Linked DNA regions of Homo sapiens: region 2 is linked to region 1. Evidence: fine-mapped expression QTL. Tissue or cell type: whole blood. Region 1 holds a variant in brackets; the other region holds the start of a gene. All regions are shown on one strand. Distances are from middle to middle. Region 1 holds the start of ZBED4 (zinc finger BED-type containing 4). Region 2 holds the start of BRD1 (bromodomain containing 1).

What was found.
Region 2: it holds the start of BRD1, and the variant in region 1 is fine-mapped to the expression of BRD1 in whole blood (TOPMed, PIP above 0.99).

The regions. Positions count from the first base shown.
Region 1 is chr22:49,843,443-49,858,913 of GRCh38, forward strand. ZBED4 (zinc finger BED-type containing 4) reads left to right here and starts at 10,402. Exons shown (of 2, transcript NM_014838.3): 1 at 10,402-10,547. LOC124905156 (basic proline-rich protein-like) reads right to left here and starts at 6,210. Exons shown (of 3, transcript XM_047441701.1): 1 at 6,156-6,210; 2 at 4,978-6,112; 3 at 1,818-2,955. The coding sequence starts at 6,210. The coding sequence ends at 5,079. LOC105373091 (sterile alpha motif domain-containing protein 1-like) reads left to right here and starts at 6,148. Exons shown (of 2, transcript XM_011530661.3): 1 at 6,148-6,638; 2 at 6,740-7,228. The coding sequence starts at 6,306. The coding sequence ends at 7,228. LOC105377205 (a long non-coding RNA gene) reads right to left here and starts at 10,070. Exons shown (of 5, transcript NR_188597.1): 1 at 8,994-10,070; 2 at 7,640-7,765. It also overlaps LOC124905147. RefSeq lists silencers at 9,750-9,839, 9,860-10,589, 10,760-11,049 and an enhancer at 13,235-13,895. The variant G/T (reference allele first, on the strand shown) is at 5,463.
Region 2 is chr22:49,820,578-49,836,048 of GRCh38, forward strand. It overlaps BRD1 (bromodomain containing 1), which reads right to left and starts at 7,296. Exons shown (of 13, transcript NM_001304808.3): 1 at 6,920-7,296; 2 at 2,374-3,754. The coding sequence starts at 3,740. It overlaps LOC105377205 (a long non-coding RNA gene), which reads right to left. Exons shown (of 5, transcript NR_188597.1): 5 at 11,872-13,110. RefSeq lists enhancers at 3,972-4,551, 5,761-5,960 and silencers at 6,461-6,630, 7,361-7,430.

The DNA of each region.
Region 1 (15,471 bases):
CTCCCATTCCACGCAGCTCTACTCAGCAGGGAAAAGGAGCAGGCCGTTGGTACATGCAACTGGGATGAAGCATCGCCAAGGAATTATGCTGAGCAAAAATAGCCGATCCAAAAATGCTACTTACTATGCGATTTTTTTATTTTTTATTTTTTATTTTTTGAGACAGAGTTTTGCTCGTTGACCAGGCTGGAGTGCAATGGCGTAAAGTCGGCTCATTGCAACCTCCGCCTCCCGGGTTCAAGCAATTCTCCTGCCTCAGCCTCCCAAGTAGCTGGAATTACAGGCGCCCACCACCACGCCCGGCTAATTTTTTGTATTTTTAGTAGAGATGGGGTTTCACCATGTTGGCCAGGCTGGTCACGAACTCCTGACCTCAGGTGATCCACCCGCCTCGGCCTCCCAAAGTGCTGGGATTACAGGCATGAGCCACTGCACTCAGCCTACTATGTGATTTTTAAATGACACAGTTTTAGAAAAGAACAGATTTGTGTTTGCCAGAGATTCATGTCAGGCTGGGGACAGGAGGGAGGCGGGTGTGACTATAGATGGACGACATGAGCAATCCTGTGGTACTGGAGCCCTTCAGCATCATGACTGTGGGTGTGCAAGCCTTGCCTGCTGATAAAATCATGCAGAATTTAATATACACATAAAAATGAGTAGACGTAGAACTGAGGTACTCTGAATAAGATCCGTGGGTCGTATTGACATCCATACCCTGGCTGTGACGTTCCACTCTAGTTTTGTAAAATGGTACCCTTGGGAAACACTGAGCAAACCATACAAGAGATCTCTCTATGCTATTATTTCTTACAATGGCATGTAAATCTACAATTATTTCAATACAATTTTGCACTGCAGCCAAGCACTGCAGCTCAAACTCGTAATCCCAGCCATTTAGGAGGCCAAGGAGAGAGGATCACTTGAGCCCAGGAGTTCAAGGCTGCATTGAGCTAGGATGGTGCCACTGCACTCCAACCTGGGGGACAGGGCAAAACCCTGTCTCAAAAAAAATAAAGATTTTAAAACTTAAAATAAATAAATATTTAAAGTTTCCTGCCAGGAATGTTTTCTAAGAAAATACCTAGAGGATCTGCAAAGGAACAAAAATGATCATGCTCCCCTGGGAACTGTTTTTGATAGGGAAAGGGACACACTTCAGATCCTTGCTGAAAGGAAAAAAAACTGTTTTCCTCTCCTCTGTCACATAGAACACTCTGCCTCCGACACCAAATGGGGGCAGAGGGTTCCCACATCAGCCACTTCTCCTAGCCCCTGGACACCAACTGCGAGTCCAGCAATTCACTCTGACACTCTCCACCTCCAGTTTGAGGCGGATCCCACAGGTTAGGGGCTCCGTCCCACAGCCTGCCCCCACTTCAGGTGCCAGTGGAAGGTCTGGGTCGCTGGTACTTCTGATCAAGCAAGTGTGATTCAGGAGTTCCTACAATCCCTTCTTTGGGTTGGATACTTTGCTACGAATAGAATGGCTTATGGACCTCAGAGAAACATGTTTGTTTGTTTGTTTGTTTGTTTGTTTATTGAGGCCCAGTTTCGCTCTTGTCGCCCAGGCTGGGGTGCAATGGCACGATCTCAGCTTACCACAACCTCTGCCTCCTGGGTTCGAGCGATTCTCCTGCCTCAGCCTTGCTAGTAGCTGGGATTGCAGGCATGCACCACCACACCTGGCTAATTTTTTATTTTTAGTAGAGACAGCGTTTCTCCATGCTGGTCAGGCTGGTCTCAAACTCCCAACCTCAGGTGATCTGCCCACCTCAGCCTCCCGAAGTGCTGGGATTACAGGCGTGAGCCACCGCGCCTGGCGAGAAACATGTTTATTATAAAAGATACGATAAAGGATAGGGATGAGGAGTCAGATGAAGGGTGCGTAAGGCGAAGTCCAGAAGCGTTCTCAGCACAGGAGCTGCCAGCCCTGGGGAGCTGGGGTGCTCCACGCCCCCCACAAAGAGATGTGTTCACCAACCTGGGAGCTCTCCAAACCCCCACTGCTGAGGGACTTTTACGGAGACGTCTTCATGTAGGCATATGGCGCATTAGGAACCGCGCCTCTAGCTAGCCCGTCTCCCCTGCTCAGAGGTGGGGGTAGGGCTGAAGCTCCAGGTTTCTCATCATGGTGTGGTCTCGCTAGTGACCAGCCCCCATCCAGGAGCCCACCAAGAGTCACCCCATTGGAACAGAAGAAGCTCCTATTATCCAGGAAATTTCAATGGTTTTAGGAGCTCTGTGTCAGGAACCAGGGGCAGAGATGAAATATCTATTTCTTATTATGTCACGATCCCACAGGACTGTGTACGTGAATGTGCCATGCAGTGTCAGGCAGCCATTCAAAATGACCCCACACTGCCATCATCAGTGGCAGGCGAGGCTCTTTGCTAAGCAAAAACAGCAGTTTAGAGAAGAGAACACACACGGTGCAAAGCCCAGAGGTGCCACATGGCTTCCTGCAGGGTTGCCATGAGTGCACTGGCTCAGCAAACGAAGCTCCTGAAATTCCAGACGAGGTGGGAGATGGGTTTCGGGGTGTCTGCAGCTTTGCCACAGATAGGAATGCTTTCTAGAGGAACTTCATCCTCGGTTCGGGATTCTTTGCTGTGGGAGTTTGGCTGGACATGAATTTGAGTGACGTCCGTTGGCCTCATGGCACCTCAGGCACAGAGATAGCCAAGTAGACAAGTGGAATCTTGCGCTGTACCTGAACCTTCCAGAAACACAGCCTACAACCTGTGACCACGAGATGTGCCACCAAAAAAGATGGCAGCTGAAGTTAGACTCCGCCGGCCCCTTCCTCCCTGCCTGGCTTCCTTGCGTTCCTTGAGTGCACTCAGAGCTCCACTCCCTGGTTAGCAGTCAGGCCTCAGCTACGGCGCTGCCTCAACTCTGTAAAGTTCTGCACGTAGCTCCTAGGTTCTGCAGGGGGTGATTTTTGCTCTTGTCCTGAAGAATAACAACAGCATTTTAACAAGTGTTTGAAATAAAGATGGCACACATTTAGGCCAGGCACAGTGGCTTGCGCCTGTAATCCCAGCTACTCCAGAGGCTGAGGTGGGAGAACCCCTTGAGCCTAGGAGATTCAGGCTGTAGTGAGCCGACATCAAGCCACTGCATTCCAGCCTGGGTGACAGAGCAAGACTCTGTCTCTAAAAAAAAAATAATAAATTATATATATATATGTACTCTTTTCTTTTGCCCAGGCTGGAGTGCAGTTGTGCGATCTCGGCTCACTACAGCCGACATGAACACTGCAGCCTCAAACTCCTGGGTTCAAGTGATCTTCCCATCTCGGTCTCCCAGTGTTGGAAGTACAGGTGTGAGCCACCATGTTGGCCTTCTTTTTTAAATATATGGTCATATATAAAACCTAGGCAATGCCAGCTGGGCGCTGTGGCTCACGCCTCTAATCCCAGCACTTTGGGAGGCTGAGGCAGGTGGATCATGGGGTCAGGAGATCGAGACCAGCCTGGCTAACACGGTGAAACCCCATCTCTACTGAAAACACAAAAAATTAGCCAGGCATGGTGGCATGCGCCTGTAGTCCCAGCTACTCGGGAGGCTGAGGCTGGAGAATCGCTTGAACCCGGGAGGTGGAGGTTGCATTGAGTCGAGATTGTGCCACCGCACTCCAGCCTGGGTGACAGAACAAGACTCCGTCTCAAAAAACAAACAAACAAAAAACTAGGCAATGCCAGGTGCAGTGACTCATGCCTGTAATCCCAGGACTTTGAGAGCCCGAGGCAGGCAGGTTGTTTGAGCCCAGGAGTTCAAGACCAGCCTGGGCAACGTGATGAAACCCCGTCTCTACTAAAAATACAAAAATTAGCCAGGTGCCTGTACTCCCAGCTACTCAGGAGGCTGAGGTGGGAGGACTGCTTGAGTCTGGGAAGTTGAGGCTGCACTGAGCTGTGATCACACCACCGCATTCCAGCATGGACAACAGAGCAAGACCCCGACTCAAGGTAACAAACAAAAAACAAAAACCCTGGGCAATATACACCTAATTGTTCTTAAAGTTATTCCTTTAGGGATGTGTCATAAGTAGTTTTTTCACCTTTTTACATACTTTTGCTGTTGACTGGACTATATACAGAGAACAACATGCCTGTTATGATTAGGGTTGCAGATAAAATACGGTACAATCAGTTACATTTTAATTCCAGATAATAATTTTTTAGTATATGTACGTGCTGTGCACTTTTTTTTTTTTTTAGACAGAGATTCGCTTTTGTCGCCCAGCCTGGATGGCCCAATCTTGACTCACTGCAACCTTCGCCTCCCGGGTTCGAGCGATTCTCCTGCCTCAGCCTCCCTGGTAGCTGGGATTACAGGAGCACGCCACCATGCTCCGCTAATTTTGTATTTTTCGTAGAGACGGGGTTTCACCATGTTGGTTAGGCTGGTCTGGAACTCCCAACCTCAGGTAATCCGCCCACCTCGGCCTCCCAAACTGCTGGGATTACAGGCGTGAGCCACCGCGCCCGTCCGGTCCCACGCAATTTTGTATTTTTATCCACCAAATCTGGCAGTCCCAGCTATGAACACAAGCTCCAAATGCCTTTCCACCCATGGACCCTCAGACAGAACCAAGGCCACCGCAGCCTGGAGCAGCTGCCGCCCCCACCCTTCCCAGCGCGTTCCCTTAACCCCCTTGCGTTCCAGCTCCCCCGGCTCCAGCACCTTCGTGACCTGAGCACCGGCGGGCTCCTGCTCACTGTCCAGCACCCGACGCACCTGTCCCCGCCGCGCAGTCCCTTCCCCCCGGCCTGAGCTTCCCTCCCGGCGCGCACTGCCCTTGTGACCCTTTCCCTCCCCGGCCACAGATGCAGCTCTCGGCCAGAAGCTCCACTTCCCCGAGGCCCTCGCCCCTGCCAGGCAGCTCCCCTGCGGCGTCGCCCACCCAGAGTTCTCCCCCTGGACGCTCCCTCAGTGCCCCCCTAGCAGCCCCGGCGGTCTTCTCCCCACCTTCAGCCCCCTCCCCGGTCCCCCAGGAAGGGGCCAGACTCCAGCTCAGCACCCAGCGCTTCCTGGTCTTTCCCTTCTGGGCGCCCTCCCGACAGTTCCCTTTAGGGAAGTTGGCCCGCTGCGCGCTCCCACCCCCGGCCGCCGCCTGGACAGAGGCGCGCAATCCGGAGGGCGCAGGCTCCGGCCCGGAGAAGGGGGTGCCGCCGGCGTTCCGATTTCTCAGGAATGGGGAAACAGAGGCACGGTGGATCCGGCGGCGGGGCTGGGTCTGGGGCTGGACGTTGACCTAGGACCCCGCCCCTGCCCGCCCTGCGCCGCGCCCCTCCCGGGCCGGCCTTGACCGAGCAGCTCCACGCGGGCCCGGGGCTCGTCCACCCGACAGGAGCGGGGGGCTGCAGCCCACGAGCCCACGAGCCCGCAGCGACGCACCCGGAGTGTAACCTCGCAGAGTCACGGAGACACTTTCCCGGTGTGGGCGCCTCGCC[G/T]CGCTTCCTCCCCGCGGGCTGCGGCCACCCCAGGGCAGGACAGAGCCGAGATGCCCGGGTGGGAGCGATGCCCGCGTGGGGGCGATGCAACGGGGGAGATGCCTGGGGGGAGGGTGGTAAGGTGAAACCTGGTGGAGAACAATGGGGGTGGGTGGGCGATTCCTGGGGAGGTGCCCGGTGTGGGGTGTTTCTGGTTCGCCCGGGGACAGTGCGCGTCCCCTCGCCCGCGGCGCCCGCCCTGCCCGTCCCACCGAGGTCCCCCGGGAGCGTCTGGGCCCACGGCTTCGGGGGGTTTCTCCGAGACCTGGGCGCTGTTCTGGGGGAGCAGGGGCCCGGGCCACCAAGGTTCGTGCGGACCGTGGGGTGTCCCACGCCCAGGCCGGGGGATCCCAGAGCCCCGCTTCCCTCAAGGGCGCCGCGCCCCGGACTGCAGGTGGAGACGGGGACCGGCCCCGCGGGGTCGCCGACAGGCGCGGGGCGGGACAGGGTGGGAGGCGGCGGGGCGCAGAGTCCTCCGGTCGCCGGCGCGATCCGGGCACCTTCCTGGAGGCGGCGGGAGCGCGGTCGCGGCGCCTCCGGGGTGGGGTCCAGGTTGGAGGCTCCGGGGCGCACCGCCCTAGCCCCACCCCGGCCGGGTCCCCGCGCTGCCTCTGCGGAGAGGGAGGAAGGAAGGAAGGCAGGGAGGGAGGGGACGGCCGGCAGGCGTGGGGTCCGCGGCGTCAGGGCTCCTTCCTCCCGTCCGCTCCATCCTGCAACCCGTAGCCCGGGCGGGGTCTCGCTGCCCCCTCCCCGAACACAGCCGCCTTTTCCTCCCTCCCCAACCCCGAGCGCCTCCCTTCCCGAATGCGGGAGTCCATAGTGCACGGGAAGCCTCTTCCCCTCCCCACCGAGGCTGCCCGACGCCCCTTCCACCCTCCGACCCCCCGCAACCATCCCTCAAATGCCCCGGCGGCCAGCAGGGCTGGGGTGGGCGCAGGAGAACCAGGGGTCCTGCCCGCATGCAGGGGTTTGGGGTCGGTGTGGCCGAATGAACGCGCGGGTTCAGACGAGCCTGTGATGCCCCCGCTTTCCATCTCCTCGCGACCTGGCCCCAGAAGACAGTCTGAGAGGCCGGTGGCCGCGGATCCTGGACGCGCTTCCCTCCTGCCTGTGGTTTCCCTTTATTCCGGCAGCGCTGTGAGTCCACCCTTCACTCATAGGAGCCACATCCAGAACCTTCTCCTGGGGCCACAGCGTGGGCTTCCGATACCTGTGTGACCCCAGCTCTGCCCCTTCAGGGCTGCGTGGTGAAGCCCTCAGGACCCTCCGCGTGGGTTGGGCGGGTGACGTGGATGAGGGACAACGTGGTGAGGTCCCCGTCGTGGCGAAGAGTGACCAGTAGGTGCCCAGGGCCCAACCCTCCTCTGCACCCGAGAGAAACCATCTCCTCTGCAGCAGCCCCCACCTGGACGCTCTGGAGTCCTCCCCACCTCCCTCCCCAGTGGGGCGCACAGCATTCTTGCTACCCTGAAAGGCAGACGGGAGGCACAGGGTGGCAGAGGGGGGCCAGGTCTGAGATTCCAGATGGAAGGGACCATGGGGCTCCACCCCACCACCACTGTAGGCAGGGGACTGGCAGGTGTACACCCTTACTCCCGCGGGGCCCAGGGACACAGCCACCCTCCTTTGAGGCCCTGGCCCTCAGGACCCTGCCACAGCGAGGTCTGTGCCTCCCCAGTGACCAGTGGTCACCGGGCTCGGGGTCACCCAGCTGCTTCCACATGTGACACCATCAGCTCCATGCCCTACCCCCAAGCTGGGCTCATAATCTTAATTCACAGCTAAGAAACTCAACCAAAGTCACATCACATGAGGGCGAACCCTCCAGGGCCACAGTGCTCCAAGCACGGAGGGCTCCCTGCCTTCGGAAGATGCTGTGGGTCCACCTGCAGCCTCAGTGGACAGAGGACCAGGGCACCAGCTGCTCTTCTGCCTCAGTGCGGAGCATCCCTGACTCGCACTGCCCTGTACAGGTGGGGCTCACAGTCTGTGCATGGAACTCAGATAAAACACCTGGCCCTGGGATGTCACACTTTGGTTCAGATGAATGAAAAAATAAGATACTGACACTCTGGATGACTAAGAATCGACTTATGTCTTTCCCGTGATGGGAAACTGTCCCATGAAAAGCCACTTACATGTTTGGATGGTCCTGTAGAAAATATTTTTTCTTCTCCTTATCGCAGTCTCTATGATGCATAAGAATGCAATTTAAGACAAACAGCAAATAAATACCATCTGTGTATGTACCAAGCACTTGCAGACTGAAAAAAAAAAAAGAAAAAGAAAAAATAAGATATTGTATCTTGGGCACACAGAAAGTGCCCATCAAAGATTAAATGAATGGACTGCAGCTGGTGGAGGCATGGGGTACTGGCTTGCCGAAACAGTCCCAGTTGATGCTGGGTCCTGGCCCCATGATGTCTAGTGTGCCCTTCCATGCTCCAGGGTGCCCCATTTGGGCACTTAGTCCAAGGGCCACCCGACATACAAAACAGTATCTTCCTGTGAGGGGCCAGAGAATAGGCCGCACCTGGCTGCCCTGCACAATTTGGAAGGCACTAGGAGGGACCTGTCAACCTGCACTCACTCACTCACCGGCAGGCCCCTTTGGGAAGAGCTGTTGCTCTTTGGCCCCAGGAATCTTCTATTTCTGCACATGAGTGCCAGGCAATTGTGGGGCCCCATTAACCTACTCCACAAAGCGTAGGGGGCCTTGCTCTCGGCACTGGGCATGCTCCCTCAGCACATACAACAAAGAAGTCCCCCCTCCCACTGATTCTAGCAGGAGGCTGTTGGGGGGCAGTCATGACACAGGCATATACAGTGTGTCAGATGTGTCAGAGCCCGGAGAGGGGATGAGGAGAGCGCAGTGTTACTTCCTAGAGCATGGCCCCGGAGAGCCTCCCACTATGCTGACATATGGGCAGCCGTCTGGGAGCTTGACACTGGCAGAGGGGAAGAGCAGTCCAGGCAGACAAGAAGTCAGTGCGAAGACCCCAAAGCAAGCATCAAGGAGGCTGGGGGCTGCTGCAGATCTGATGAGGGGATGGCAGGGGCAGAGCAGGCCTGAGAACACTGGCCTCCACTCTGAATGAAACAGGGATCCCCAGGCCGGGCACGGTGGCTCATGCCTGTAATCCCAGCACTTTGGGAGGCCAAGGCGGGCGGATCACAAGATCAGGAGATCGAGACCATCCTGGTCAACATGGTGAAACCCCATCTCTACTAAAAATACATAAATTAGCTGGGCGTGGTGGCGAGCGCCTGTAGTCTCAGCTACTCTGGAGGCTGAGGCAGGAGAATCGCTTGAACCCGGGAGGCGGAGGTTGCAGTGAGCCGAGATCACGCTACCGCACTCCAGCCTGGGGACAGAGCGAGACTCTGTCTCAGAAAGAAAAAAAAAAGAAAAAGAAAGAAACAGGGAGCCCTTTTTGGGTGTCAGTGCCTGGTCTCAACTCCATAGCTATGGTGGAAGGTAAAGCAGTTTACCTTTTAACTACATGAACAAGCATGGTGGTGTTCCAGTTGAACTCCTTAGGAAACCGACATTTTAATTTAATTTTTTTTTGGAGACGGAGTCTTGCTCTGTCACCCAGACTGGAGTGCAGTGGCGCGATCTCGGCTCACTGCAACCTCTGCCTCCCGGGTTCAAGCGATTCTTCTGCCTCAGTCTCCCGAGTATCTGGGATTACAGGAGCCCACCACCACGTCTGGCTAATTTTTTATTTTTTTTCAGTAGAGACGGGGTTTCTCCATGTTGGCCAGGCTGGTCTCGAACTCCTGATCTCAGGTGATCCACCCGCCTCGGCCTCCCAAAGTGCAGGGATTACAGGCGTGAGCCACCGTGCCCGGCCGATATTTGAATGTCATATACTTTTCATATATGCTAAAATACTGTTTTAATTCTCCCCCAACCTCTTAAAAACGAGAAAAGCATTCTTAGCTCAGGCACCATAGAAAACCCGGCTGCAGGCTGGACGTGGACTTTGGAACAGTCGGCGTGCGGGTGAAGGGGCACAGCCGCGGGGCAGGGGCGGGCTCCGGGCAGAGGCGGCCGTGATAACTCCACGCTCCCGCTCCAGCCGGTGACCGCCACGCGGGCTCCTCTCACTCTCACACTCAGGCCGAGAAAATGCCGAAAGCCGTGTCACCAACGGGGGACCTCGGGGCCACATTCAGCATGCAGAGTTTATTTGGTCTGCTCAAACATTTGTGTTAGGAAATAACACATTAAAAGTGCACATTTCCTTCAGACCCTGAGAAGCGGGCGAGTCCCGTGCGCTCCGCACCGCCAGCCCCGGCCCCGCGCTCGCCCAGAGGGCCGCCCTCCTCCCGCCGACCCGGCTTGGGGCTTAGGCGTTAATCCCGTCCCCCGGGGGGGCCGCGCGGGGAGCCCCGATCGCCTTAGGGTCAACGGCTTAGGTCCCAGCCCACGAGGCCTGACCGCACCGCACTGAGCGGCCTCTGCGCCAGGTAAGGGGGTTCGGGGCGGGACCGGGAACCGCGCTGCTAGCCGTCCCGGAAACCCGCGGTGGGCCGTTGGGTGCGCGCCGAGCCGCTGCCAACTGCCAAGCCACGGGACGAAACCAAGGCGCCCGCGCCCCGCCCAGCCAGAGCGCCTAAGCCCTTCCCGTCGCCCGCCAGCGCCGGAGCGCCCACTGCGCCTGCGTAGTTTGCCCTCCTGGACCCGGGGGCGGAGCCGAAGCGCGCATTGCGCCTGCGTCTTCCGCCCGACCCCGCCCCAGCGGCCGGGCCTCCGGCGCTCCGTCCTCCCGCCCGGCCAGGGACGAGGCGGGGCGGGTACGCGGACACTGCGCCTGCGAGAGTAGGCCCCGCCCCCGATCGGCCCCGCCCCCGGCCAGCCCCGCCCCGCGCCGCGCGGGGCCCTGGGAGGGGCGCAGCGTCCGGCGGCGTCGCGGGCGGCGGGCGGCGGGGCCGCGGGAGGGGCGCGGGGGCAGACAAAGCCGCGGTAATGAATGGAGCGTCCGCCCGCGCCGCCGTCGTCCGCAGCCGGCCGGGAGCCGCCCCAGAGGCCGGGCCGAGGTGAGTGCGCGGGCGCCGCCGCCCCGCCGCCTGCCGCGAGCCCCGTCCCCCGCGGACCGCGCCGGGGCCGGGCCGGGCCGCGCCATTGTCTGCGCCGCGCCGGGGCCAGGGCCGGGGCCAGGCGGGCGGGGGCGCGGTTCCGTGGCCTCGGGGTCCCCGCCCGGCGCCGCCCCGGACCCGCCCCCGCGCGGACCCCGGCCCTGACAGCTGGCGCGGGGGCGGCGCCGACTGAGCGGCCGAGTGCCGGGGGTCGGCGCCCGGCCTGGCCCACGTGCCCGCGCCGTTGCTTCCGGGCGGACGGGACGGGGCTCGGGCTCGGGGCGCCGCCCGGGTCCGCCGGGAGCGCGCTGTCCCGGCCACGTCGAGTTAACCCCGCGAGCCCCGTCCCTGGGACTTCTCTGGACGTGTCATTCCCGTCCCACCTCCAGGAAGGGCCACCTGGGCCCTGCTTCATGTCTCAGCCCAGACGGGTCCTTGCGACGCGCCCCGAGGCAGGTTATTGTACGTGGTTCTGGGGATGACCGTTCACATTTAATGAATAAAAATGTAACTTGCCTTGCGAACCATAATTTCAAATGTTTTTCGACTGCAGTGGTTTTCCTACACCCAAATGAGCTCGCAGTCAGTTTTGTTTCTTCTTTTGTCCCGTTGTGTGGCCCACACCGCCTTCGTTGCTAAGAGAATCGCAGCCCCTCGGGCTCCCTTCTGCGCCTTTCTATTCCGGGTGGCCCTGGTAGACCCGGGCACCTCTGTGGAAACACGTCCCGGCCAAGCTGAGCCGTCAGAAGCTTCTGTTGGTGTTCTCGTGTTGGTCGAAAGGGAAGTTATTTATTTTGAAGTTAACTCTGATCAGATTACGTTTTTAGAAATCCATTCAGACCTCATAGTGAGGCCAGTTTGGTAAAGCAAGGGCATCCTGCGACTTTTTACACAGAAATGTTTTTTATTTTTTCTGTGTATGTCATTCATAGTGACAAAATTGAGGCTAGGAAGGATTTGGTTGGGATTTTTTTTTAAGTGCTATGAATAAGCCACATTTTGATTATGAATTAATTGCAATTACTAAACAAAGTTACTTTGCAAGAGGAAAGTTTACAGGAGTTTGATTCCATACTCCGAGGGTTTCCAATGGGACGTCCGTACAAGGCTGCACACTTCCCGTAGTCCTTAAACGGATTATATCTGCTTGTCATGATTGGCTTTTTTTCAAGAAAAGATCTAGCACAAGTTAAGAGAGATTCTGTGAATCTTGAAAAAGCTTCAGAGGCCCGGTCTTTGAGGTGAGGACACAGTTAATCTATATGGAAAGAAACCTAAGACTTTTAGTCCACTTGACAGGTGGTTACAGGGTCTCCCCCAACACACACTCTTGTCCAGGTAATTCCTGAATAAGGTGGTTGATGTTGTTGGATGTAAAACCTCTGCTCTTTAAGGTTACCTCCTCCCCAACCCCCTCCACACACACAGTGAGTAACTCAGCTGTGCAAAGTATGTCCATAACACCTTGCAGAAAGACTAAAAAAATTACTAGGGGAGCGGACTGACTTCTGTGTGTGTGCAGAGGAGCTGAGAAGCAGCTTCTTTAGCGAAAGGTGTGTGTGTGTGTGTGTCTCAGATCCTTGGTGAGGAGCCCTGGGGAGTGGACTCCTGGCGGCATGAGGAGCAGGAAGTGACCGTGGTCAGTGCCGTCCTTCACTTTGTTTTGCGTTTTTTTCTTTGCCTGGCTTTAGCTTCTGGTCTCATTCTCTTTGGTGTGGTGGTTGTCTTTTGAGAGGAGGGAGCAGGTGAAACAGCTGGGCGTGGCTTTGCCCAGCCCTGGGGTAGAGGCCAAGCTGGCCCTTCCTTACCAACGTTGTTTCCTTCACTGTTTAAATCTCAGGACCTGAGAATGTACCTATAGGAATTGCTCTTATTTACATTTGGCTGTGTAAGAAAGTCACTGTGCCTTTAGCCCGTGACACCCCTTAGCGGTTTGGTTTTGGCTTTCTCTTTTAGTGTCTGTGGATTCCAGCAGCTCTCTGGCTTCAGCCCTTTCAAGGATTCGGGCCTCTCTGCATCCCAGCCTTCCAGGCCCTTCTGCTCCCCACTTTTTAGCACCTAGGTTTTTCTACATTCTGCAGTACCTCAGATCCCTTCCTTGGTCATCACTGGATATGTGCTTTTGTAGTTCAAATTCTGGGAGGCATTGTTAGGAATAAAATAAGCTCTTTGCCATTTCTGAGGCGGAGGGGAGCAGGAGAGACAGAGGTGCTTGCCTCTCTGCCTGCTGGGGCCATGGTGGTTTTCAAAGAAGGCCCTGGCCGTAGGGAACATGGTGGTGGTGAGGAGCAGCGTAAACCAGAGAAAAAGGCTCAGTAAGTGCTTCAAGGAGAAACACCGGCAGGTGAGAGCAGGGGTAATCCCAGTTTCTCAGGAAAGCATGCTCCGGAGACCTCATAGGGAGAGGAGGTTGCCCTGAAGGGTCTGGGGGCGATGGCGGAAGCCCCAGGAGAGCATTGTCCATGAGGTGCAGAGGCAGCCTCACGGCATCCCAGTGCGTACCTCCTGCCCGGCCCAAGCGCCTGCTGCTGAAGCCGCCTCCCAGCTCCCCCGGGTTGTTTCGGAATTCAGGGGACATGCAGCCTAAATGACCCACACTGGAATCCCGGCCGGCTTCCCATCCCTCGTTCTAGGTGAAGGCCGCGCTGGAATCCCGGCCGGCTTCCCATCCCTCGTTCTAGGTGAAGGCCGCGCTGGAATCCCGGCCGGCTTCCCACCTCTCGTTCTAGGTGAAGGCCGCGCTGGAATCCCGGCCGGCTTCCCACCCCTCGTTCTAGGTGAAGGCCGCGCTGGAATCCCGGCCGGCTTCCCACCCCTCGTTCTAGGTGAAGGCCGCGCTGCAATGCCAGCCAGCTTCCCACCTCATTCTAGGTGAAGGCTTTTCAGCAGCCATGGCCCATGTCTTTCCCAGCAAACTCTGTGTGCAATAGAAACAGCTGATGCTGGCCTGGCCCTGGGGATGGGGTTGTGACTGCTGCAGCCCCCTACCTGATTAGGGTCGGGAGGACCTGGCCCCCCGCCCTTCCTGCCTTGCCACCTCCACAGACAAACCCTGAGGGGCTGACTTCCTCCAAAGCTGCTCCTCATCGAGGCCCACCTGGTGGTCTCTGCTCCACCTGTTTGCTGCAGGGAGCAGGGTCGGGAGCATGTGCATTTCGGAGAGCTCTGGTTGCTCCGTCATAGAAGCCATGCTCCACATCCTGTAAGTGAGAGACTCCCCAGCAGCGTTCAGCCATAGCTGCGATGTCAGGCCTGTCACTAGTGGGACTGCCCGGACCCCCAAGGTATGGGTACACGGCGAGGGTGCTGGTGTTAAATACAGGGGACCCACAAAACCACCTAGCAGAACAATCCACATGACCCTGTCGTGTGACCCAGAACATTTCAGGGATGGAACACGGACCAGCTGACCTTAGCGTGGTCGCTGGCTTGCTCTGGAAGGTGCCGTTTCCAAGACGCCCTTACCTGGGTTCCTGAGCACGTCTGACAGAGCAGCTCTGACTCCGGGTTTCTGGAGTCAGACCCCTTGCCACTGTCTTTGACCTTTAGCTTTGGGTTCCCCTTCTCAGTTTGTTTGTTTGTTTGTTTATTCTCACTCTGTCACTCAGGCTGGAGTGCAGTGTTACAATCTCGGCTCACTGCAACCTCTGTCTCCTGGATTCAAGTGATTCTGCTGCCTTAGCTCCCTGAGTAGCTGGAATTACAGGCACCCGCCACCGCACTCAGCTAATTTTTGTTTGTTTTTTGAGATGGAATCTTGCTCTGTCACCCAGGCTGGAGTGCAATGGCACAATCTCAGCTCCCTGCAACCTCTACCTCCCAGGTTAAAGCGATTCTCCTTCCTCAGTCTCCTGAGTAGCTGGGATTACAATAGGCGTGCGCCACCGTGCCCGGTTAATTTTTTTTTGCATTTTTAGTAGAGACGGGGTTTCACCATGTTGGCCAGGGTGGTCTCGATCTCCTGATCTCGTGATCCGTCCACCTTGGCCTCCCAAAGTGCCAGGACAGGACTACAGGCGTGAGCCACCGCGCCCAGCCAGTTTTTGTATTTTTAGTAGAGATGGGCTGTCACCATGTTGGCCAGGCTGGTCTCAAACTCCTGACCTTAGGTGATCCACCCGCCTTTGCCTCCCAAAGGGCTGGGATTACAGGCGTGAGCCACCGTGCCCGGCCCCCTTCTCAGTTTAGCCCAGACCTGGATGTTGGCTTCTGTGTGGGCAGCTGTTGTGAGCCATGGCTCCTGCTGGAATTTGTGGCAGTTGATGCTGCTGTGCACCCCCAGAATAGGTGAAGGCTACTCAGGTGTAGCCCCGATGGTAGTTTATGTCCTCAGGAGGAGAAACTGCCATGTCCCCGTCTGAACCAGGCCCGGAGTCTTGATGCATAGCTCTTTGCCTCCCTGGGTATACTCGACAGCTTGTTGAGAGTGCGTGTGCTCTGAGTTGAACACGAATATATTTCTGTTGTTTGAAGGTTATTATAAAGTTTCTAACTTACAGAGTTGGCACTCCTACGTCCCTTGCCCCCAGCTGGAGCTACCGTGACTGCCACCAGCTGCCACCTGGCACGTGCTGAACTGTCTTGAAGGAAACTGCAGATATCTGGACACTTCTCTAAGTGTTCTTTCTCCTAAGAAAGGGAAAGGGACATTCTACTGTCTAATGACAGTCGCGTCATCGATGGCGTCTACAAAACGTGACTGTGTCCCTTGGCGTCATCCAGTAGCCAGTCCACGGTCTGAAGTTGTCCCCCAACGTCTTTACTAGCTGTTTTTCCCAACCAGAATCGAGTACAGGGCCACGTGTCACAGTGGCTGTGAGGTCTCTTTGCGTTCCGGTGCCCCCGGAGCACCCCCTGTGATCTGGCGGTGGGAGGCCTGATTTGA
Region 2 (15,471 bases), 23 kb before region 1:
CGTGGGCAACAGAACAAGACCCTGTCTCTAAACATAAAATAAAAAATAAGAAGCTTCACCCTCATCTACACAGAATTCAAATGCACAGCTGAGGCCTCCTACATGCACCCAGGGGTAGTGCCCAGGGCCTAAGAACAGGGCTGCCAGATCAGCTGCCTCTCAGACCACAGCAAGGCAGTAAACCCGGTTTCAGGCAGCAGTCAGTACTGTATTGAGAGCCTGCCCCTCACAACCACCCCAGAGGTGGGTCCAGCACCATGGTGCCAACAGGCCAGGCGCACTGGGAGCTCCTCCACTGGTGGCAAGGTGGCCTGAAGCACCAGCATCTCCTGGAGACTGGGAAACCCAGACTGCAGAGACCGCGGCCAGGAACACTCGTCCAGGTTTGTTTCTCTCTCTCTACTCGAAGCTGAAATAATAGTTTATTCCCAAGTTAGGAAAAGAACAGAACCACACAGTACGCGGTTTAGCTCCAATACATGCTTTCAAATATTTAGGTCGAGTTTTCTTCTCAATCAGCCCTGGCCACTTCAGCCCCCATGTCCTGCATGCAAACACTGCCTCCTTCAGTCCTGCCTACCCAACATCAGGAGCCAAAGAACAGAGAGCGTGCGGCCCGGCCAGGCCCGGCCTCTCCCAGAGCAGGTCATCATCTGGTACTGGCCAGGGAAGGGAGCACTTCAGACTTTTGGCTCTTCATTTTGTTAGATCACATTTTGTTTATTTTGCTTCAATTTCAGTAAAGCTGAAATTTTTAGACCTCTTATACAGAAGCTCTTAATACAAACCCTAGACTTTTTGACTCATAGGTAGAAATCCAAGCAAAACCATCTCTTCAAAGTCAGATTAATTTACAAAGACAAACACCTTGGTTTTGACAGGGTTTTCCCTGGATGGGAAGGATTATGAGCATTTTTTGTTCATTCTGTCTGAATTGACTAATTATCTGAGTATTTACAGCTCTGTGAAAAGAAACTGGACTTCACTTTGGTAAAGTAGAGTAATATTAACAAAAATCACTTAAAACTTCTTTTTTTTTTTTTGAGACACAGTTTCACTCTGTCACGCAGGCTGCGGTACAGTAGCACAATCTTAGCTCACTGCAACCTCCCAGCCTCACCGCCCGATGCAGCTCAGCCTGCATGCGTCCCACCTGTGCTGTCCTCCCCTCACATGTGGGGCAGGTCTGACACCTCAGAGGGTCCTGCTCACTGACCCCCGGCAGTCCTGGAGGGTCTGTGTGGTACTGGGGCTCTAGGCGTCTCCCCCAGCCAAGCTGCAAGCTCAGCACCAGGCTGGCTCTACCCGCCCTGTTGACCGGCAGGCCCCATCTGTGCTCACAGCTCCTCCCCTTGTTTGGCCACCCTTTCCTCAGGGCATCTGCAGCAAGTGGGGGGCACAGCACGGGAAACGGGGCCAAGGCCACAGCAGTGGATGTCCCGATGCCGGCAGTCACTGGGAAGCCCAGGCCAGAGCCCCTCGGGTTGAAAGTCATACAGAGTTCCTGCGTGGGCTTCATTCCTTCTTAAAGTTTAGTCACTGAAATTCTTAAAAATCTTCACGCACGGCTGGGCATGGTGGCTCACGCCTATAGTCCTAGCACTTTGGGATGCAGAGGCAGGCAGACTGCCTGAGCTCAGGAGTTCCAGACCACCCTGGGCAACATGGTGAAACCCCGCCTCTACTAAAAATACAAAATTAGCTGGGCATGGGAGCACACGCCTGTAGTCCCAGCTACTCAGGAGGCTGAGACACAAGAATTGCTGGAACCTGGCAGCAGAGGTTGCAGAGAGCTGAAATCGTGCCACTACACTCCAGCCTGGGCAACAGAGCAAAACCCTATTTAAAAAAAAAAAAGGCTGAGCAAGTGCTGTAATTCCAGCACTTTGGGAAGCCAAGGCGGGCAGATCACTTGAGGTCAGGCGTTTGAGACCAGCCTAGCCAACATGGTGAAACCCCGTCTCTACTTAAAAAATACAAAAATTTGTCGGGCATGGTGGCGCACGCCTGCAGTCCCAGCTACTCAGGAGTCTGAGGCAGGAGAATTGCTTGAACCCAGGAGGCGGGGGTTGCAGTGAGCTGAGATTGCGCCACTATACTCCAGCCTGGGCGACAGAGTAAAACTCCGTCTCCAAAAAAAAAAACATAGAAAACTACAGATTATTCCAAGCCTACAGACTAAAATCTTTTACAACATCTATTCCCCAAAAAGACGTGGTAAACAAGCAGAACCACACTTCAGGGGAATATTAGGAAGCTGCGCCAACTAGAAACGCAATGACCACACAGCACGGGCCCTGCAGGCTGTGCCCACGTCCTCCCAGGGTCCCACACTGCAGGCTCCTTGTGGACTCAATGCTTGGACACGCTTACCTCTGCGGGGGAATATAAGGAGCGCACACGGTCGGCAGGACCGCGCAGGGCTCAGCCAGAGCTTTCTTAGCCTTTTTTGCCTTCTTCCTGACCTTGGATGTGGACCTGACCGTTTTAACCGAGCTCTCTTTTCGACAGACGCCATTTTTCATTTCGACATCCCCGTAAATATTCAGAGGCCTCCGGGTGCAGCCTGGAGGCGTGTGGACATCACAGTAAGCGGTCTTTCTGACGGAGAAGGTGGTGCCACCGCCAGTCAGTTCCTTCACGGGCTCCATTTTCATGTACAGGCCAGCCTTCTGGGCACACGTCACATGGAATGCTGTGTAGCAGTTTGCTTTGTGGCACTGGATGCAGGCACCCACGCCCTTCTGCTTACAGAGGTAGCATGTCAGTTTCCACCGGGCTGGAGGGATGTTCCTCACCCCATCGATGGGCTCGATGAACACCGTGTTGGCAAAGCCGACCTCTGGGATCCACAGGGCACACACCACGTGACCCCAGCGGTCGTCATCTGTCTTTTTGAAGGCACCACCCTTGTTGGGGCACAGCACACAGTCGGCGGGCCGGGCCCGCGACTGCAGGCAGTGGCGGCAGAGCCACTGGCCCTCGGGGATGTAGGGCACCCCGTAGCACTCCTGGTGCACGGCCAGGTTGCACATGTCGCAGAAGAGGATCACGTTGCTGTTCTGACACTCCCCGTCCATGCAGATGCAGCACACGGCGTCCTCGTCGATCAGAGACTGCTGCTCGCCCTGCTTCTGGTTCTCGCAGTGCGACTCCTTCTCGAAGCGGTCCATCAGGAACTCAAACATGCTCTGCGACACGGCGGGGACGCAGTCGCCCTTGCGCTTCTCATTGACGATCTCCAGCCAGGCATAGTCCTCCTCGTCCATGTCATACTCCACCTCGTTGTCCAGTTCCTCGGCCGACTTCTCGATGAACTTGTAGTACACAGGAGGCCTCCTGGGGGCGGACGGAGGGCTGTACTCCACGATGCGCACCTTGGGCTCCGGGAGGGCACTGGCCGAGGCCGGCGTGCCGTGGGCGCTGGGGAGGGCCTCGTTTTTCTTTTTGACTCTGTTGTTTTTGTGACGCTTAGTTCTTAAGCAGACAGGAGGCCGCTCGCTGTTTTCCTTGTTGCTGTTGCACTCACTCATCTCTTGAGCAGTGAGGTCATCTTCCAATATGATCTCCAGGGGATCAAAAATACTGATCCTGTGCAAGCGCCCTTCAATTTCTATCTCTACCATCCTTTGAGCTTGAGCGTAGGTCAGCGTTTCTCGCGTAGGGGAGTGTTTAACACTGCATGGGGAAGAAGGATGCCTCGCTGCAGAGCCTCGATGACATCGTCCTTTCCTCCTCATTTGGTAATGATTACCTAAAATGAAGGCAAAAGTAAAGGTAATTCTACGCAGGGTGACCAAAGACTCGAGAAAACCACAAAAGCATGCTTGGACAGATCTAGCTCAGCAGCTCAAAGCCCAATCAAAGCAAAACTCACAGCTAACCTCTTTCCAAGGTGTCCAAAACCACACATCCAGGCCTGAGCGAGTCCCCAGGACCAGGGAGGGAGCAGCAGTAACAGGCAGAGAGGCAGCCTGAGGAGCCCTCCTGAGCACCTGCGTCCCTACCACCACACACCAGTCCCCTCTCAGACCACACCAACAGGCTGCGGAGACCACAGCAACGCTCCCCAAGGAGGAGGGGTCCGGCCCAGAGCCCACAGTTGCAGGACTTTCCCAGCATGCAGGCGGTCCCCCAGGAAGTCCACATACAGGGCTGGACCCCACCAGGCACAGAGGCTATGCCCACCAGACAGGCATGCTCAGTGGCTACCTGGTCCTATCGGATGCTCCCCCTAAACCACTCTTCCCCTCCCCACTACTCCCAGGAGAGCACTCCCATGAGCCCAGAGTCACCACAGTCCTTGCAGCATTCCTGCTGGGGCCAGGGGTAGGAGACAGATCACAGCCTGTCCATCCTCTATAGACAGGCCCTCCACACGCACAACACGGCACAGGGGACCAACAGGGGAGCCCTGTACTGGTCTGAGGGGACAGTCTTGGCCCCTGGGAGGCCCCAACCCCGCTTCTGCAGAGCCTTGGCAGTGACCACCATGGAAACCACCACAGGCTGAGCCAACCTGCCCCTTCCCCTCAGGGGCACTCCTCAAGCCCCACTGAGACCATGGTGCTGGCCACGTCCTCCTCCTTCCACGTCCTCCTCCTTTCTGAGAGAATCCAGACACATGCATGACGCCAAAGGGAATCTCTGTTCTCCCCGGCACACGTGAAGGCAGACGCTCCACTCAGGCTCCACAGCGAGGGGTGACCCCCAGGAACCCCTCGCTGCTTGCAGAGACCCTCACCAGGAGGGTCGCCAGCGCTGGCTCAGGTGCCTGAAGACTTGGCCACAGAGGCTTAGGAGAATCTGCTTTTCCAGAGGTAGGCAAAACCAGTGAGCTGCCTCCCATACCTCCAGCTCCTCGTGGCAGAGGCCTCTGCTGTCCCAACACCACGGACTGCGTCTATTCCTAGCTGTCCCCAGGGTGCCTGGTGTGTGGACACCTCCTGTGAAGACCACCGCCTGCTGGGCAGTGCCTCCCTCCAAAGCGCCACACTTCACTGACAGGAAGCAAAATGATTTTTCAGTGACTGACTCGCAAAACAAATATTCTCAGCTGAAGCCCAAGGCATACTCTGCATCTAGCCCTGCCACGTCAGGGACGCCTGGCCTCGGGGCCCAGGGGGATCAGGGGCACCCACAGCAGCCTTACCCTGATCTATTGGGCCTGAGAAAAAGCCCTCAGGGAGCAGGCTTCCCTCTGTGAGTCCCGAAAGGAAATCCCAGCAGACTTCAAGAGCACTTCTTAAGACAGACCCTCCAGACACTGGGTATCTTTCTCTGTATCAGACAGAAATCCTCATTGTATGTTGAAACTAGATTGCAATTACCTACAGAAAGGAATAGGAGAGAAAATGTGGTCGGCCAAACCTCAGACCCCCTGCATCTCCAGGGCCTCCAGGTACCCACTCAACCCTGGATTCCTGGGGAGCTGTCAGCACAGCCACCCCCCAGCCGGCCCCGTGAGCCCTGCAGAGGTGACACCACAGCCTGCAGAGAGCGACCCTAGTGCACCCGGGACGCCGACACGCGTCATTACTGAGGTGGGGCAGAAGCAACAGTTGGTTACTCACCAGATCAGAAACGAACCTGTCATTTTCCCCTCGACAGCAAAGTCCTGAGTCGCCCTAACGACAAGCAGCCCCTGGAAACCCACTCTCTCCCAGGGAGCCGTGAAGCTCTTCATCGCAACACTTTCTACAAGGGGAGAACTGAACCGAAGGCTTCACGGCCACAGCAGCTCCATACCCTCAACATGCAACTGGGACCCGGGGAAAGTAGGCCCTCAGCAGGGCAGGGCGACCCACGACCTCCTCTGCTTCACCGCTTCCCCCCTGGGCCGGTTCTGTCCCTGGCCCTTCCACTGGGACAAGCATTTCCACTGGGAGGGATCCGCGGGGGCACACACGTAGCTTCTCAAGGAATAATTCCCTTAAGTACATCGAAGAGCCCTGCGGGCCACAGGCGGGGAAGGCTGCCCACAAGACGGCCGCTTCCATCTTCCCACCGCCCGCCCAGGGAGAAGCCGGCCACGCGCCGGGCCTCTCGGTCAAGGCCACAGGGGCCGCGGCCGCTGAGCTGTGCGAAGTTGTGTGCAGCACACAGCACTCGGGACGGCGCTGGGCCGGCCAAACAAAAACATCCGCCGATTCCACTAACTACACAACCACCTGGCGACAGACCCTCAAAAACAGACACGGGCGGCCGCGCTTTCTGGGGAGACGGGGCCGCACCCCGCGGGGCAGGGGGTCCCGCTGCTACGGATTCTCAGAACTCCCGCGTCCGCTCACAAGAGCCGCGTTTCCCGTGAACTGCGCCTCAATCGTGTCACTCGTTTTAAAAGGCCCGGGGAAGCCTCGCGTTCGTCGCGAGGCGTCTCCCTGCAAACGCCCGGGGAGGCCGCGGTGCCGGTTCCCAAGCCCGGCCGCCGCAGGCCGCGCGGCTCCTGGGCGATCTCGGGGCGCGTCCCTGCTCACAGGGAGTTCCCGTCTTGGCAGAGCTCGGCGGGCCTGTCTGTTACATAAGGGGCGGCCCGGCCGGCTCGGCGGCTGCCCGAGGCCCGACCCGACTCGAGCGCGGACTCCGGGCAGGCGCCCGCGGCCCAGGCCGCCGAGACCCACAGCCCGACTCGGCCTCCCTCGACTCCCCGGCCTGACCTACCCGGTCTCCCCGCCCGGCCTCCCCGTCTTCCCGCCCGTCTCCCCGGCCGCCCGGCCCGACCTCCCCGGTCTCCCCGCCCGGCCTCCCCGGCATCCCGGGCTCCCGGCCCGCAGACAATGCGGAGCCGCCGCCGCCGCCGCCGCCGCCAAACATGGCGTCGGCACCACAACCCCGAGAGGCCGGGCCGAGGCGGCGGCGGCGGCCGGGCGGCCCGCGAGGCGGCGGGGAGGCCTCCCCGGCCAGGCCCCCGCCCACTCACCTTCGGGGCGCCGCGGCCGCGGGAGCCCGGCAAGCGGGCGGGCGCGGGGGCCGGCGCGGCCGAGGCGGTGCTAATGGCGCCCGCGGCTCCTCCGCCAACGGCCGCGCAGGCCGGGCCCCGCCGCCGCTCCTGGGCGCGGGCCCCTCTCGGCCGCGGCGGCTCCGGGCCCGGCAGCGGCGGCCGCGGACTCTCGGGCAGCGGCTCGCGCGGCGCGGGCTCGGGCTCGGGGCCCAGCTGGAGGCCCGGCTCGGGGGGCCCGGCCGGCGGGCGCGGGCGCGGGCGCGGGAGCGGGCGGCGGGCGGCGGGCGCGGGACGCGGGGCTGGCTCGGACTCCAGGGCCGGGTCGCTCGCTCGCTCCCCAGCGAAGCAAACAATGCGGCGAGCGCTCCGCCCGGCGCGCTGCGTGCGAGACGCGCCCCGCCCGCCGCCGCCATGACGCGCGGACTCCGCTGCCTCGGCCGCGCGCGGGGGAGGGGGCGCCGCGAGGAGCGGGGGCCAAAGGGGGCCCTGAGGCGGCGGGGACCGGGCTGGGAGTGGGGGGTCGGGAGGATGGAGAGTGGGGGCCCTTGAGTTAGGGAGGACCGGGCCAGAAGGTCCCTGAGGGGGTCAGGAGGATGGAGAATGAGGGGCCCTGAGGCAGGGGGACGTAGGCCTAGGAGTGGGGGGCCCCGAGGCAGGTGGGGAGCAGCCGGGAGTCGGGGGCTTTGAAGCAGGGGGGTACCGGCTGGGAGTGGGGGTCCCTGAGGCAGAAGGGCATTGGCCCAGGAGTGGGGTCGCTGAGGCAGGAGATGGCCCAGGAGTGGGCGGCTCTGAGGCAGGGGCTACCACCGGCCTGGAGTGGGGGGCCCACAGGCGGGGGGACGGGCCGGGAGTGGGGGTACCTGAGGCAGAAGGACATTGGCCCGGGAGTGGGGGGCCCCGAGGCAGGATGGGGGAGCAGCCGCCAGTCGGGGGCCCTGACGGGGGAACGGCCAGGAGTGGGGGTCCCTGAGGCGGGGGGGACCAGCTGAGAGTGGGAGTCCCTGAGGCAGAAGGCCATTGGCCCAGGAATGGGGGGCCCTGAGGCAGGGGGCGATTGGCCCACGAGTTGGTGGGGGCCTGAGGCAGGGGGCGATTGGCCCACGAGTGGGGGGAGGCCTGAGGCAGGGGGCGATTGGCCCATGAGTGGGGGGCCCTGAGGCAGGAGGCTATTGGTCCGGGAGTGGAGGTCCCTAAGAGGACAGAGGGGGCCCTGCGGGGGCACTGGGTGGGAGTGGAAAGGGCACTGGCCGGGACACGCGACTAGGTAGAGGTGGGTGGTGCAGCCGGGCTGGGGAGCCTCCCCTAGTGAGTGTCAGGCCCGGTGTGCAAGTAGTCCTGCCAGTGTGAGGGCCCTGCCGAGGCCGGCGTGAAGCAGATGCCCTTTAAGGTTGCAAGAAAAGGCCCCTGCGGGTGGGAGTTGAGAGGCCTGAGTCTCTGCCTTCACTTTGGCCTTTTGTGTAAACTCTAAAATTCAGTGGGGTCATAACAATTTTCACTCCAAGATTAAATCCCAAATGTTTTAAGGTGAGGCAGGAGCTCCTTGGTTTCCTTGAGAATTTGTGATCAGGACGATGGTGCTGTGGAATCCCTGGGTTCCAGCAGCACAGCCTGTGGCATCCAGGCAGGCCCCTCAGGAAGAGCAGCTGTCCACCCTGGGACAGACCGTCCCCACGGGGGCAGCCGAGCGGCCCCACTGCTCGGGGCACTGCACCAAACACCTTATTGGGAGTGGGGTGGCCTTGTTCGCCCAAGTGTCCCTGATAGGGGCCAGGCCCCACAGGCCTTTTCCTGGCCAGTCCTCATGCCCATGGCACCCAGTGTGTGGGTTGTGACGTGACGACTCAAGGGCAGGTAGGACCCCAGCCAAGGCCCCAGTGGTCAGTCCTGATCTAGGACTCCCTGCAGACACACCCTTGAGCTTAGGGGGTACAGGCCACTGGGGCCCTGACCTCTTCTGCACCAGACCCAGGAGCTTCGTGTCACCTCCATTCTACAGATGTCTGTTTACCTGTGGCCAAACAAGCAAGCTGAGCCCGAACGCTTCTCTCCTCCACCTCAGGGAAGCCAGATGGAAACCAAGCTGGAGGTTCTCCACAACACAGAGCAAAAGTAAGACACAGTCTCATGAAAGAGAAGATGAAAAGACACGAAACCCTTCACAGAAGAGGAGACGGGGACAGTGGCCTCTCAGACAATGCAGGTGATGCTCAGAGGAGTGAAGAACAAAGCCTCGAACGTAGGCATGTCACAGGGATACTCAGGAAGGCCTTCGGAGAGGATCTTCTTTAGAATTCAGACTCATCCTACAGAGGAGGGGTTGCCAAAATACTAAGAGAATTGAACCGTAACTCATACACAGTGAAACTAGCGTTCCAGTGAGACAGCAAAATAAAGGTGTCTTCACCGCCGGTTAACATCCACATTTACCACACACGCAGTCTGTAAAAGTACTAGAAGAAATACCTTAACAAAGTGAAAAGTGGACCCAAGAGTAAGACGTGGATGCCAGCAAGTAAATCAGTCTGGTCCGTTAAAAGAAAATCAACCTGAGAGAAATCCCGGATGAACTCAACATGACACATGGTAAGGCGGGGCGCAGAAGGAAGTGAAAGTGCACGAAAGCTCTTGTATTGTTTGGTTCGAGGATTTTAGAATCGATAGAAAAAAAGGTTAAAAATTTTAGCTGGGCATGGTGGCTCACACCTGTAATCCCAGCACTTTGGGAGGCCGAGGCGGGCAGACTACCTGAGGTCGGGAGTTCAAGACCAGCCTGATCAACATGGAGAAACCCCATCTCTACTAAAAATACAAAAAAAAAAAAATTAGCCGGGCGTGGCGGCGCATGCCTGTAATCCCACTACTTGGGAGGCTGAGGCAGGAGAATTGGTTGAAACTGGGAGGTGGAGGTTACAGTGAGCTGAGATGGTGCCATTGCACTCCAGCCTGGGCAACAAGAGCAAAACTCCATCTCAAAAAAACAAAAAAAAAAAGTTTTAACTATCAGAAAGTTTCCACAAGAATGGTGGAAAAAGAATTTACCACTTTCAGAACAGCTGAGGAAAAAGCGAAATGAAAAACGACAGCAGCAACAACAAAAAAAAAACAGGAATGAGTAAAAGATAAAATCATGATAAATACAGAACATAATATGAGTTGGCAGAACTAAGTTCAAACATTTGAGTAATCAGAGGAATGTGATTGGATTAAATGCATCTATTAAAAGACAACCTCTCTGAATGGAATATAAATATGGTGAAATATTCTTACAAGAAATTCACCTGAAAAATAACAGATGAAAAATAAAACGATGGGGCCAGGCACAGTGGCTCATGCCTGTAATCCCAACACTTTGGGAGACCGAGGCAGGTGCATCACCTGAGGTCAGGAGTTCAAGACCTGACCAACATAGTGAAACCCCATCTCTACTAAAAATAGAAAAATTAGCCAGGCATGGGGGCACGTGCCTGTAATCCCAGCTACTCAGGAGGCTGAGGCAGGAGAATCACTTGAACCCAGGAGGCTGAGGTTGCAGTGAGGCAAGATTGCCCCACTGCACTCCAGCCTGAGTGACAGAGCAAGACTCCATTTCGTAAATGAAAGGATGGAAATTATCATATGTTTGTTCCTCAAAAGGCACCATAAAGAGACTGAAGAATGAAAAACTAAAAGATATGTACACCTTGCAGATGATTAGTATTTAGAATATATAGAGAACCCCTTCAGATCCATTAGAAAGAGACAAACAAGCCAACAAAATGATGCACAAAACCCAAATCAACAAAGAAACCCATGTCATAATCAGGCTTCTTGCAGAGAACATGGAAAGGCCAATCATCTTACTAGTAAATTTGGAAATGCAAACAAAATACACACCAAATAGGCACCAGCGTTCATATGTGGCAATACTCAGCGATGGCAAGATGGCAGAGCAATACCCTGCTGGCCAGAATGTCGAGTGGGACAATTATTTGGTAAATATCTTGGTCATAAGGCGTTACCCAGTGAAAGTGGACATGTTTATCAGTTACCTCTTGCTGCAAAACAAACCACCCCCAAAACTTTGTAGCTCAAAACAGCAGTCATTCCTTTTGTTCACACATCTGCTATTTGGGCAGGATTCAGCAGGTACAACTAGACTACTTCCTGCATCCTTATCTGGGGCACCTCCACTAGGGGCTGGAGGAGCCACTTCCAAGATGGTGCACTCACGTGGCTGGGACCTTGATCCAGGCTCTGGGCTGAGGGCCTTGGGAACATCCTCATGGAATAGTAGCCATGCTGCAGGAGCAAGGGTCTCAAGAGAAGCAGGTGGGACCTGTATCACTTTTCACATCCTAGCTTCTGAAGTCACACGCATCACTTCTGCCATAGGGACAAGCCTGTCCAGATTCAAGAGTTAGGGAGAATACAGACCCCACCTCTTGGGACATGTGTTATCATCACATTTTAAGAGAAGCATGCTGTATGGGAGAAGTTGTTGTGGCCACTTTGAGAAGATGCAAGCTCCCCCAGTGTGCATACCCATTCCCGGCTGTAGGGTTAAGTCAATTTGTATTCCTAGGTGCATTCCGTGCCTGGGTGTGTGCCTAAGAAACCTGTTCATCAGGGCCGGGCGCCGTGGCTCACGCCTGTAATCCCAGCAGTTTGGGAGGCTGAGGCAGGCAGATCATGAGGTCAGGAGATTGAGACCATCCTGGCTAACACGGTGAAACCCCATCTCTACTAAAAATACAAAAAATTAGCCAGGAGGCTGAGGCAGGAGAATGGTGTGAACCCAGGAGGCAGAGTTTGCAGTGAGCAGAGATTGCGCCACTGCACTCCAGCCTGGGCAACAGAGCAAGACTCCATCTAAAAAAAAAAAAAAAAAAAGAAAAGAAAAAAAGAAACTTGTTCATCAGGAAGCATGTGCATGAATGTTCAGAGCAACACTGTTTTTGGTGTTTTTTTTTTTTTATTTTAACGCTGTTTTTAATAGCAAATACTGGGAGAAATCTTAAATATCAAAGGACGGTAAAATGGACAAAGTGAGGTGTATCCACGCAATGGAATAGCACACAGCAACAGAAATGAATGAATTCCACCACCAACACGGCCAAATCTCAAACACATAATTTTAAATGGAAGAAAGAAATCTCAAAAGATTACAGAATATGATTCCATTTACACTCAGCAGACAGAGCTAGGAAATAAGTATGTACAAACACACACACACACACACACACACACACACACACACACACACACACACCCATATCTTTTCTGATACCTCTTAGCAAACCTTGAGTTCATACTGATACCTGTACCTCCAGTTACAATCTAGCATGGAGTTGATTCTACCCTCCTCTGTTTCTACATAACTATCTATGCCTTCACTTAGTAGCTCAGTCCCCCGCTACATAACCATCTCTAGGCTATACAGGACAGAAACTTGGCCCCAGACACAACCACTGCCCCCCATTTTGCACCAGCCAAAAATGCGGTTCTGGGGGCATCACTGCTCTCCAGAATGGTTATATCTGCAGGCTGAAAGCACAGCCCAAGAAAAGGCAAGGAGGAGGATGCTCATGTTGTTTCTGATATTCTGTTTCTGGCAGGAATAAGACAAAACCCTTCTTCTTTGATCTATCTCACCTTTAATTTATTTAATTTTTATTTTTACCCGGTATCTGCAACAATCTACTTTAGGAGACTATCCTTTCACAAACATTAAAACGTTCTTTAAATGGTGTTTTTCTCACTTCAGAATTCAGGAAAAATAGTTTTACTGACATTTACTTTTAATAAAAACGTAGTAATTTGCATTGTTGCAGTAGAAATTTGTCCTCCTTGTCACCAGGATATAATCAGACAAATTAATAGTGGAGCCCAGGCCTTACATGGGTGTCATATTTGAGAATAACTTTCCTGTGCTTCCACAACACGCCCACCTTTAAGGAACAAGGGTTGTGGCTTGTGTGCTGAACCAATGCCCACACAACCCTCAGACCCATACTGGCCGGGCACCTGTACTCTGGCACACAAAGCCTCAGCCTCACAAGTAGTAAGAAGGATACTTCCTGGCAGGCCAAGAGCCATGGCAGACACTGGAACCTTCTGGAAGATAGAAACTTGCACACACACAGGTCCCGCGGGCACACCTGAGGGAGGTGGATTTGGTTCGGCTTCCTGGCCTAGGAACAGAAGAGCAAATAAGAGAAATTAAAAAACAAAAAATCTCAGGTGTGATGTAGGCTCAGTCCTACATTCCTTATGATGACACGTCCAGACAGAAGTTGATTTTCCGGCTTGGTCATTGCATAACGCCATCTGGTTTACATGTGTCACCTAACAAGGACACTCGTGCGTGGTAATTACCACTTCTTGCAGCACCTGTGTAGATGAATTAGGTCAGAATGCAAGACTAGCTTTCTGTGGTCAAGAATAACCTTCGGAGATTATTTATCATCCCAAGAGGGAGCTAATAAAAATGTCCCAGATTAAGGATTAGACACCCCAAAATGAGTGTGTCCATTCAGTGGCAGGCTATGTTCCTGAGCAAGCCTGCCAGGCAGATTTTCGGATCCTCTGGAGTGTGCGCCTGCTTAACTTGCTATATACTATTGATTACGATATTTTACAACTCAGCAAGGGTAGACTTTAATTTGTTGAAGATAGATGGCTAAGTAAAATTATTCCTCTCTGACAGCAATGCAAATAAATTTTGCCCAGTAGTGAGTGATAGAAATTATTTCTGTCCAGTGGAAAAGATTACAGTAAAAAAGGTTGCAGTTTGACTGGGCGCAGTGGCTCACGCCTGTAATCCCAGCACTTTGGGAGGCCAAGGTGGGAGGATCACCTGAGGTCAGGAGTTCGAGACCAGCCTGGCCAACATGGTGAACCCTTGTCTCTACTAAAAATACAAAAATCAGCCGGGCGTGGTGGTGGGCGCCTGTAATCCCAGCTACTCAGGAGGCTGAGGCAGGAGAATTGCTTGAACCTGGGAGGCGGAGGTTGCAGTGAGCTGAGATCAAGCTATTGCACTCCAGCCCGGGCGACAGAACAAGACTCCATCTCAAAAAAAAAAGAAAAGAAAAAAAGAAAAGGTTGCGGTTTATGGCCCTGTAGAACATTAACCAGTTTTTTTAAAAATCTAAATAAGCAGAATTACTCAAACTTTTTTAAGTCACTACAAATACTTCCTTCTCTCCAATCTTTTGAACCAGCCTCACCATCATGCTGGTTTCCTCATTAATGATTAAAATAAATCTTTGACACGTCTTCACTTTAGAGTTGTATGAGTCATGTTTTTAACTTTTTTTTTTTTTAAGACGGAGTCTCGCTCTGTCACCCAGGCTGGAGTGCAGTGGCGCGATCTCAGCTCACAGCAAACTCCACCTCCCAGGTTCATGCCATTCTCCTGCCTCAGCCTCCCAAGTAGCTGGGACTACAGGCACCCACCACCACGCCCGGCTAATTTTTTTTTTTTTTTTTGTATTTTTAGTAGAGAAGGGGTTTCACCATGTTAGCCAGGATGGTCTCGATCTCCTGACCTCGTGATCCGCCCACCTCGGCCTGCCAAAGTGCTGGGATTACACGCGTGAGCCACCGCGCCTGGCCCTGTTTCTAACTTTTTAAAAAGTATGCTTTGACAGCTCCAACATCTAGCTGCCTTCTCAGCCTCTCCTCCAGGATGTCCTGTAGGCATCTCGAACTCAACGTATCTGGCACTCAGCTTTTGGTCTTCATCCCCAAACTTCTCTGCTGTCTCCTTCCTCGGTTATGGGTTGAATTGTGTCCCCCCTGCAAAAGGTATGGTGAAGTCCTAAGCACAGTACCTGGGAATATGAGCTAATTTGGAAATAGGGTCTTTGCAGATATAAAGTTAGGATGAGGCCAGGTGCAGTGGCTCACGCCTGTAATCCCAGCACTTTGGGAGGCTGAGGCGGGCGGATCACCTGAGGTCAGGAGTTTGAGACCAGCCTGACCAACGTGGTGAAACCCCGACTCTACTAAAAATACAAAAATTAGCTGGGCATGGTGGCGCATGCCTGTAGTCCTAGCTACTCACAAGGCTGAGGCAGGGGTATCACTTGAACCTGGGAGGCGGAGGTTGCAATGAGCAGAGATTGCGCCACTGCACTCCAGCCTGGGCAATAGAGTAAGACTCCATCTCAAAAAATAAATAAATAAATAAGAATAAATAATAGGCCGGGTGTAGTGGCAAAAAATAAATAAATAAATAAGAATAAATAATAGGCCGGGTGTAGTGGCTCAAGCCTGTAATCCCAGCACTTTGGGAGGCCAAGGCAGGCAGATCACGAGGTCAGCAGATGGAGACCATCCTGGCTAACACGGTGAAAACCTGTCTGTACTAAAAATACACAAATATAGCCAGGCGTGGTGATGGGTGCCTGTAGTCCCAGATACTTGGGAGGCTTAGGCAGGAGAATGGCGTGAACCCAGGAGGTGGAGCTTGCAGTGAGCTGAGATCGTGCCACTGCACTCCAGCCTGGGCGACAGAGCAAGACTCCATCTCAAAAAAAAAAACAACA